3 separate regions of the Homo sapiens genome follow, and regions 2 and 3 are each reported to be linked to region 1. Evidence: microRNA targets listed by miRTarBase, many of them from high-throughput screens and not tested one by one. Region 1 holds a microRNA gene; each other region holds the end of a gene's coding sequence.

Evidence for each region. Region 1 holds the annotated microRNA hsa-miR-6810-5p (AUGGGGACAGGGAUCAGCAUGGC, at 1,388-1,410, shown strand). A microRNA usually pairs through its seed, bases 2 to 8, with sites in the 3' UTR of a target mRNA and lowers its output. Matches are read on the target gene's strand: a 7mer-m8 pairs with bases 2 to 8, a 7mer-A1 pairs with bases 2 to 7 and ends in A, and an 8mer does both.
Region 2: the mRNA of CRK is a reported target of hsa-miR-6810-5p. Seed matches in the 3' UTR shown: 7mer-A1 at 1,271-1,277.
Region 3: the mRNA of HLX is a reported target of hsa-miR-6810-5p. The part of its 3' UTR that is shown has no 7-base or 8-base seed match.

What each region holds. Positions count from the first base shown.
Region 1 is chr2:218,340,529-218,343,781 of GRCh38, forward strand. It overlaps MIR6810 (microRNA 6810), which reads left to right and starts at 1,383; the gene lies at 1,383-1,452. PNKD (PNKD metallo-beta-lactamase domain containing) reads left to right here. Exons shown (of 10, transcript NM_015488.5): 5 at 200-258; 6 at 1,006-1,098; 7 at 1,453-1,616; 8 at 2,972-3,058. All of the region lies in intron 2 of CATIP-AS2 (CATIP antisense RNA 2), which reads right to left. RefSeq lists an enhancer at 2,990-3,253.
Region 2 is chr17:1,420,806-1,424,014 of GRCh38, reverse strand. CRK (CRK proto-oncogene, adaptor protein) reads left to right here. Exons shown (of 3, transcript NM_016823.4): 3 at 365-3,209. The coding sequence ends at 502. Among named protein-coding and RNA genes, the nearest start is that of CRK-AS1, 2.2 kb to the left of the region's middle.
Region 3 is chr1:220,884,315-220,887,567 of GRCh38, forward strand. It overlaps HLX (H2.0 like homeobox), which reads left to right. Exons shown (of 4, transcript NM_021958.4): 4 at 1-745. The coding sequence ends at 390. Among named protein-coding and RNA genes, the nearest start is that of HLX-AS1, 5.8 kb to the left of the region's middle.

The DNA of each region.
Region 1 (3,253 bases):
ATGTACAAGTGTCCCTCTGCCTCCATGTGCCCCGTGCTTCACATTCCTGGATCTCTCCCCTCCAGCTCCATCCCTTTCCTCTGCTTCATCTCTCCATGCTCTCCTCTCCTCTCCACCAGCGCCCACACTCCTGGCTCTTGCTGCTTCAAGTGCCTCTTGCATCCTGCTCCCCAGTCTCCAAACCTCCTCTCTCTCGCAGGCTTCCATTGAAAAGGAAGGGGTCACCTTGGTCGCCATTCTGTGTACTCACAAGCACTGGTAAGGGGCTCCCGTCTTCCCTGGCCCACCCTTGTCCCAGCTGGGCTTGCCAGGACTGGGCCCATTGAGGACGGCCGGGGCCAGAGATCAAGAAGTCAGTACGGGCCGGCACCCGCCTTCCTCGTGAAGTCACCTGGACACCAGCAGGGAGGGAGGAGAGGGGACAGTCTCCCACCACTCCATTGATCAAGCTTCTGAAGCCCCAGAGGGCAGGGCAGTCATTTCTCTTTCATTTCATGGGCATGTATTAGATACCTACTGCACACTGGGCATGGACAAAAGTTATGACTCTTCCATCAAGGAAATTCTAAGACCAATAGGGGAGGTAGCCCTGTATCAAAGTATATAACAGCGGAGGCAAGAGGGTTGGGAGTTCAAGCCCAACCTGGGCAACATAGTGAGACCTTGTCTTCAAAAAAGAAGTATGTGATATTTAGGTAACAGTTGGCACAGGGAACAGGGATGGGAGGCCCAGGCACGGTGTGATCAGATCCACTTGGAGAATTGAAAGATGATGACCTGAGCTGAGGGTTCAGGAAGCTCGGCTGGCATTGGCCAGCTTGAGTTGTTGGGGGCGATGTTCTGGGCAAGGGAACAGCTTGAACAAAGGCCTAGAGGTGTGGACAACTTGGCTTAGTCCAGAAGCCACAGCCCCAGCACTTAAAGGCCTGGAGATGCTGTGGTAAAGAAGGGGGCTTAGGTACAGTTGCCCCTCGAAGCCCCCTGCCTGTCTCTGCTGTCCTGCAGGGACCACAGTGGAGGGAACCGTGACCTCAGCCGGCGGCACCGGGACTGTCGGGTGTACGGGAGCCCTCAGGACGGCATCCCCTACCTCACCCAGTAAGTCCCTGACCTAGGCAAGGGATGGCCCTTCCATGGGCCCTTTCCCCCACCCCCAGCCTTCAGTGAAGTGTTTCAGGGGTATCAGCAGGTGGATCTTTGCCAGTGCCCTTCCTGGCCCAATCCCAGCCTATCTGAAGACTGGCACTGCCCATCCCCCAACTGATCCAGCCATAGTCCCCAAAAGAGGAAAGGGGGAGGGTTCGGACCTGAGACCCGAGGCACTGGGGTGACTTCTTTTGTATGGAAGCCCACTCTCTTGTGAATCACCCAGCCCCTTGGGCCTGGGATGGGGACAGGGATCAGCATGGCACAGATCCAATACCTTCTGTCCCCTGCTCCCTTGTTCCCCAGTCCCCTGTGTCATCAAGATGTGGTCAGCGTGGGACGGCTTCAGATCCGGGCCCTGGCTACACCTGGCCACACACAAGGCCATCTGGTCTACCTACTGGATGGGGAGCCCTACAAGGGTCCCTCCTGCCTCTTCTCAGGGGACCTGCTCTTCCTCTCTGGCTGTGGTGAGTTTCCCCGAAAGAGAGAGGAGCTGGGAGAGGAGGGAGAGACAGAAGCCAGGGCAGCCACAGTCCCATGGAGAGCACTGAAGCCTTAGTTTTAGCACAGATGTTGCCGTGGCAGTTACTTCCATCTGTGTTACTCAGATTGGTTTTAATCCTTGAGACTTCCCTTGGGGCACCTTGGGAGGCTGAGGCAGGAGGATCACTTGAGGCTAGGAGTTGGAGACCAGACTGGGCAAAATAGCAAGACTGTCTCTACAAAAAAATTTTAAAATAGGCCAGGCGTGGTGGCTCATGCCTGTAATCCCAGCACTTTGGGAGGCTGAGGTGGGAGGATCACCTGAGGTCAGGAGTTCAAGACCAGCCTGGTCAACATGGTGAAACCCCGTCTCTACTAAAAATACAGAAATTAGCCGGGCATGGTGGTGCATGCCTGTAATCCCAGCTACTAGGGAGGCTGAGACAGGAGAACTGCTTGAACCCGAGAGGTAGAGGTTGCAGCGAGCTGAGATCGCGCCACTGCACTCCAACCTGGAAGACAGAGTGAGACTCTGTCACAAAACAGAAAAAAAAATTTAAATAATATAAATAATATAGGCCAGGAGCAGTGACTCAGGCCTGTAATCCCAGAACTCTGGGAGGCCAAAGCAAGTGGATTGCTTGAGCCCAGGAGTTCAAGACCAGCTTGGGCAACATGGTGAAACCCCGTCTCTACAAAAAATACAAAAATTAGCCAGTGTGGTGGTGAGCCCAGGAATTCAAGGTTGCAGTGAGCTATGATTGTGCCACTGCACTGCAGCCTGGGCAACAATGAGACTCTGTCTCAAAAATAAAAAAGACTTCTGCCAGCTGCGGGACAGAATGGGAGAATGTCTGTAGCTGAGTAAAGCCCTGCAGGGAATTAGTTTCCCCTGGGTGGAGACTGGTTCTCTGATACAGTGACTGGCAGGACTAGGTTATGAAAAGTTAAGAACAGCTAGGTGAGTGGGTGGGTGAGGATCACAAGTCCCAGGCTGCATGAAATCCCAAAGGGCAGCCTAGGCGAAGAAGTGTTCCGTGGGAAAGAGCAGCCCTGCGTCTACCAAGCCTGGGGCCTGCAGCCCGAAGATTCCACAGCCCCTCCCTTCAGGTGTCACTGTGTGCAACGGAGGCCTCGGATGGGCTTGGTCAGGGGGTGACCAGTTGGGCCCAGTTCCCAGTGAGGAGGGAATAGATGCCTGGGGTGGGTCTGGAAAGTGCACAGTCAGGGCTGACGGCCAGCCAGAGCATTACAAGCTGGTTCCCACCTGTCTGGGTGTGCCTTATGCCATATTGTGTTATCCTGGCACCTTGTGACATACCCTCCAACCCCCACCCAGGGCGGACCTTTGAGGGCAATGCAGAGACCATGCTGAGCTCACTGGACACTGTGCTGGGGCTAGGGGATGACACCCTTCTGTGGCCTGGTGAGACACCCCCTTACTACTCCCCATCCTCCAGCCCCACGCTCAGCCTGGGACAAGGGCCTTCCCACCCCCTCACTCCCCTAGAAAGCAGGCCAGCCCAGTTCCTGGCCCAGAAGCGACACAGCTCCACCTCTAGGGGTAGGGACAGAGTTCTGGCCTCCCTTCTTCCTGGAGTGCTGGCTCCGTACCACCTCT
Region 2 (3,209 bases), not on the chromosome of region 1:
GGGTAGTGAGTACAAAGAAAGGGAATAGTAGCTAACTCACTGAAGTTGGGATTGCTCATGCAGAGACAGCTGAGATTTCCAATAATTATCACTTTCCTTTTTTAATCAAAAAGTATCATTATCTGGAATCCCTTTTACTTTCTGTATTCTCTGTTTTTCCACACTGCTAAAAACACTTTTCCTTCTGCCTGCATTAACCACAAGTAATCAGTCTGGTGGCTGGGGCTGGGGAGGCAGCAAATGGCCATTTCTGTAATATCCCTAGAGCAGTCACATGGGCAGGGTGTGCCTAACCAGAGAATGGAGTTGTTCAGCTTGCATTCCTACCTGGAAATAAAGTGCTCTCCTTATTCTCCTCCTGCAGGTCGGTGAGCTGGTAAAGGTTACGAAGATTAATGTGAGTGGTCAGTGGGAAGGGGAGTGTAATGGCAAACGAGGTCACTTCCCATTCACACATGTCCGTCTGCTGGATCAACAGAATCCCGATGAGGACTTCAGCTGAGTATAGTTCAACAGTTTTGCTGACAGATGGGAACAATCTTTTTTTTTTTTTTCCAACTGCCATCTATACAATTTTCTTACAGATGTCAAAAGCAGTCTAGTTTATATAAGCATTCTGTTACCTGTGATATTTTTTAGACTGAACTGCTCCATTCCTAGTCTTAATTACCATATTCAGGGTACGAACTGGAGGGCTTGTGTGTTAGCTTCTGAATTGGCAATTGGAGGCGGTAGTGGTCGTGCCTGTGTGTATCAGAAGGGATAGGTATCTTGCCTCCTTTCTCTCAGGCAGTGCAAATCACCCTGTGGAAAACCGATGGACAGGAAGGAGTGTTACACACTGCTTACCCTGATTTATTCAGTGGTTTTGTTTTCATTCTGGAACCATACTATCAAATGGCGACAGACTGTTCCGTTCCACCCCCGTGAAGTAATCATGCACCGTGTGAATAGTATCAAGCAGGATTGCTTTCATTGTATGGAGCATGACCAGCGTGTGACTCATTCTGACATTTCAGATCCTAAGAATTCTAAGAACACTACTAGAAGCATTTGTTCCCTCCTAGTCAATGCTTCATACTTTTTCTTGGGATTCTTTTAGCCCTTGACATTCTTGTCCCCCAAACCTGTAAGTAGGTGAATTCCTAAGATAAGTGTGTATTTTCATTCCAGGTGAAAAGCAGGATGTACCGAGCACTTTATTCAGTGCATAGCTTTAAGCCAGTGTTGGATTCACTAAGTGGACAGCCAGTCTCCCAGCTCTCTGCCTTCCCCAAAAGGGTCGTAGTAGGTCACCCTTCTACAGCAGCTAACTAGAGTCCTAACTAATGGGATCCAGCAGGGCCATTTCTCCAGAGGGCCAGTATCCTATTAGGAGACTCTTGGAATTCTTAGGTTCTACTCAAGAGTGGAAGGACCAATCACCTCTGATATTCTGTGGAAGGTTTTGGGGTCAAATTCTGCCCTCTGCATTCTGTGCAACTTGTATAAAAGTCAAGTTAGTATTACATGAATTTGGGGTAGGGTTAGTGCTTTGAAAAAATGTTGAACCGGCTGGGCGCGGTGGCTCACGTCTGTAATCCCAGCACTTTGGGAGGCCGAGGCGGGTGGATCATGAGGTCAGGAGTTCGAGACCAGCCTGGCCAACATAGTGAAACCCCATCTCTGCTAAAGATATAAAAAATTAGCCCGGCGTGGTGGTGCACGCCTGTAATCCCAGCTACTCGGGAGGCTGAGGCAGGAGAATTGCTTCAACCTGGGAGGTGGAGGCTGCAGTGAGCCGAGATCGCACCACTGCGTTCCAGCCTGAGCGACAGGGCAAGACTCAGTCTCAAAAAAAAAAAAAAGGAAAAAAAAAAGAAAAAAAAATGTTGAACCAATTGTGAATTACTTATGTATTATTCATTTCTCATGGGGAGAGTAATGCTGTTGAAGAACATTACATTGTAAACTGCCTTCATTTTTGGCTCTTTGTTTATGTTCAGGTTTAGTTTACAAACCCATTTAAGTATGGAATGATTTATATGGGGTCAGGTGCTCCACAAAATAGACCTATGAGACCAAAAATGACCTAGGCTATTTAGACGACAGCATGAAACTTCCACGTTAGTTCTCAGTCTATAAAGGCACTTACCGGTCTCTGGTGTGGTATGACCAATAGAAACACCTTATAGTTTGCTTTGGACCTCATTTTGGAAAAATAATCTGCCTTTCTAATTGTTCTGCATAGGTTAAAATGATAAATTTACATTCTTTGAACCTATACCAGATTGTGGTGTCCGAGTGACCGGCACACTGTCTGACACACAGTCAGTGTGCACGTATTTGTCTGAGTGAATGAGGAGACCTGAGAAACCGGTGACGTGGCACAGGGAAGCCAGCTGGCCCAGGATTCCGTACATGGCCGCAAGCAGACTAACGCGTTGACGCTAATTTAATGTATTTTACCTCACACTAAGGTCATGCTTGATAAAGACGTTAAACTCAACTTGTAAAATGGTAGCCCAGTGCTATGCACAGAGTGGGTGCTCATTAGTGTTGAATGAACACATTTGTAATACTACATGTAATTCCATCTGACTGCTTTGTTAAATTTTCAGTTAGAACGTAGATACTGTAAAGTCCACACACACATTAAATCTTGTTTTCCTGAAAGTATGGCATCAAAAATACTTGTAGAAAAACCTTGTCACAACTGATTTGAATGTTCCTATTTTCTTTTCCTTTGACTTTGATATTGGCTTGTAATGTCTCTTTTCATCATATGTAATATCAGTGGAACAGGCAGCGCTACTCAAGTCCTAAGGATTCCTCAGTGATCAGTGATCCAGGGCCGTTCATGAACCACTGGGCTGGATTTGACTGTTGAGTGTGGCAGTTAATGCCCCTCAAGAAATCAAAGGATGTCTTATAAGTGTCTTCCAAAAAAAAGCAAATGCTGAAATCCTATTGGCAAAGTAAACTGAAATTGGCTGCTATATTTTATATAATCATTTCTGCAAATCCCATTTTTTGAATACTAATATTTGACATGGTTAATTCTTATTAATTTGTTGGAATTGTTTATTGTTAATAATGCAAATAGATAATTTTTAATTATCCACAAGTAACATTTCACTGTTAATGGTTTGAAATAGGTGATAAGCAAACCAATTTGAAATAAAATATAAACATGTGCCATTGTATTATAACACTATACACTTTCTTGA
Region 3 (3,253 bases), not on the chromosome of region 1:
GGCGAGCAGGACGAGAGGAGCCCCAGCCGTTCTGAAGGCGAGGCTGAGAGCGAGAGCAGCGACTCCGAGTCCCTGGACATGGCCCCCAGCGACACGGAGCGGACTGAGGGGAGTGAGCGTTCTCTGCACCAAACAACAGTTATTAAGGCCCCGGTCACTGGCGCCCTCATTACCGCCAGCAGTGCTGGGAGTGGTGGGAGCAGCGGCGGCGGCGGCAATAGTTTCAGCTTCAGCAGCGCCAGCAGTCTTAGTAGCAGCAGCACCAGTGCGGGTTGCGCCAGCAGCCTTGGCGGCGGCGGCGCCTCGGAGCTTCTCCCTGCAACACAGCCCACAGCCAGCAGCGCTCCCAAAAGCCCCGAGCCAGCCCAAGGCGCGCTTGGCTGCTTATAGACTGTACTAGGGCGGAGGGGATCCGGGCCTTGCGTGCAGCCTCCCAACCATGGGCTGGGTTTTGTGCTTACTGTATGTTGGCGACTTGGTAGGGCAGGAGACGCAGCGTGGAGCCTACCTCCCGACATTCACGCTTCGCCCCACGCTGCTCCGACTGGCTGCAGCGGACACTGCCCAAAGCAGAGGGGAGTCTCAGTGTCCTGCTAGCCAGCCGAACACTTCTCTCCGGAAGCAGGCTGGTTCGACTGTGAGGTGTTTGACTAAACTGTTTCTCTGACTCGCCCCAGAGGTCGTGGCTCAAAGGCACTTAGGACGCCTTAAATTTGTAAATAAAATGTTTACTACGGTTTGTAAAGGCCGCTTGGCTTTGCTGGGGGTTGTTAAGGCCAGAGATCTACAACCGGACCTTAGTCCCGGGGACACTGTAGAATGCAGCAGCTGAAGGTGGTGGGGCTGGAGTTTCAGGGGAAGTGGCTCAACCTCAGAGCCATCTTGTTACAGACATCAGAGATGGGCGTCTGGGTTTAGAGGCTTCTAATTAAGAGATTTCTAGCGCCAACTGCCACTGAAAGTGCCCTCTGAGACCCTGAGTAGCCTGAGAGTGGAGCAGGCCATAGAAACTGTTAGGCCAGTGCAACAGATGGTTTCCCCATTCACAGTATGGACGAAATGAGTTCCTAGAGTACTCAGAGTTGGAATGGGGAAGGCAGTGATGCCAGGCGGGGTCAATCTAGGCACAGCTGTAATCACTATGTGGACGCGAAGCGCGGGCCCAGAGCCCTGCACAAACTTTTCCTTGTTCCGGGATGGGGTAGAGGACAGGTTTGCAATGTTGCTGAGGAAAGGACAGACATGACACAGTGGTTAGAGCTGGAAGCTTGGGTCTTAGAGTGCCAGGGCCCTGGTTGTAAACATGCCAAACAAAGAGGTGACTTCTTCAAGGTGAAGCAGAGGCACAGCCCAGATCAGAACTTGGACTTCCTGGCCTACATGTGGCCACGGATAGAACTATGAAGTTGCATCCTCCATTCCCTCATCCACGCAAAAATTTTCCTTTGCAATTTGGCCACTGGAGGTGCCTAGATGAGCTCTTTCTCCCCAAAGCTGCTGAGAGTCGTGAGGCAGTTTCCCCATCCCACTGCAGCTGGAAAATATGTAGTAAACCTTGACACTGCTACTAGGATGGGCAATTCAAAGATTTTTTGTTTGTTTATTTCTTTTAAAGGTGAAAAGTTAAACCTCTCTCCAGGACCTGTCCTCCTGCTTGTAACTGTGAAATGTCTGGAGTTGCTAAAAGCTCTTTGGGGGGATTTTATAGCAAATAGATTTCTTTGGGAAATCCTGATCAGTCTCAGTGCCAATCTCTTCGGCACTGAGCAAGTGAAGGACACAAGGTCTCTGGCAGACCCAGCATCCAGGCGGGGTGGCCAGTTCTCAGAATGAGTTGAGGAGAGGTGCTGAAGTCAGAGAGCCTAGGACACACCTCAGTCCCTTGGCCAGAGTGGGAAAGTTCTCAGCAGTCCTCTGTCTTGCTTATCTCCTCCACTTTTAGACATTCCCCTGGAGCTCATTCCAGGATCTCTGTTCTCGACTTTTCCATCCAGGGGTGAAGTAGAGGCAGCAGATTGAGCCTTCTTACACTTGCATAGCCAGATACAAGATACAGATAACAAGTCCCAAAGCCAACACATGGATGCAAAGATGATCATTTCCTGACCCAGCCAACCCCCTAAGTCCCCAAATCGAGATGATTCAAGAGCAGTGAGAATGGAGTAGGGGCAGAATGATCAGAGATGTACAATTTAGTCAAGAGAAAAGAAAGAGCATACCACAAGGGACCCCATCTTCAATAGGAACATGAACTAGCTGTTATCCCTAATTGTGTCACAAGAGTTTCCAGGCCAGGGCAGCCTCCCCACCTGGCCTGGGTGCGGGCCAGGGCTGGGATAGTTCTTCAAGCCTTCTGTAGGCTCTGCTGCCAAACTTCAGGATTCCCTCTGTACCTCAGTTTTGTCTGCATTATCGATATCAATTTCCCCTGACCCCACATATCGAAATTCTGGAAGCAGGATATCCCAAGCACATCGAATTTTGAGGTGCTTCAATCCAGCTCTGGCGTTAAGGAGAATAACGCGTCGGCACGCACACTTAGCTGAGGAGCGGAGTCTAGGGAAGAAAGGTGGGGAGGATGCTTTATACAAACCGCACTTTCCCCTGCTCCTCACCTGGCCCTGGAGGTTTCCGCTACCGCCAAACCCAGACCGTAGGTCCACGCCCTGGCCCCGGGGCTTTGAACGTGAAGAAAATCATCATCGGGGAATGTCATGATGTGATTTCAGGTAGAATTCTGCCTTATTTAGGCCACCTTTCGCCAGGCCAGGGGGCACGGCAGAGCTGGGGGGCTCAGGGATGAAGTGAGCCGGGGGGGTGAGCGCCTGAGGGCGGGAGTCAGAAGGACGAATACCACCCTAGTGCTCGCAGGAGGCGCCCCTGCTTCCGCCACCCCCACCCCCAGTTCCTAGTCAGTTATCACCTGAAGTTCTTGCGGGGCTTTACCCTAGCAGTGGAGTTCTTCCACATTTCATCAGAATCGGAATATCACAAGCCCCGGAAAAGTTACAGTTCATCTGGAAGAAGGGTAGCCACAGGTGGCCAGGAGGAAAGGCTAAAATTTGGCCGGATAGTCCCATCCCAGGGCTGCTCTCTCGACCCCGGGTACTGGGGTCTTCTTGGCAGCGCAAAATGCTAGCAAAGGCGGCCAAGCAGCTCGAAATTCTTCAACCAAGACCTAGAGTTTTCAGACCCGGAAGAGAAGGCCCAGCGCGGACCGTGCGGGGCGCTAGAACCGCTCAGGGTTGAGGCT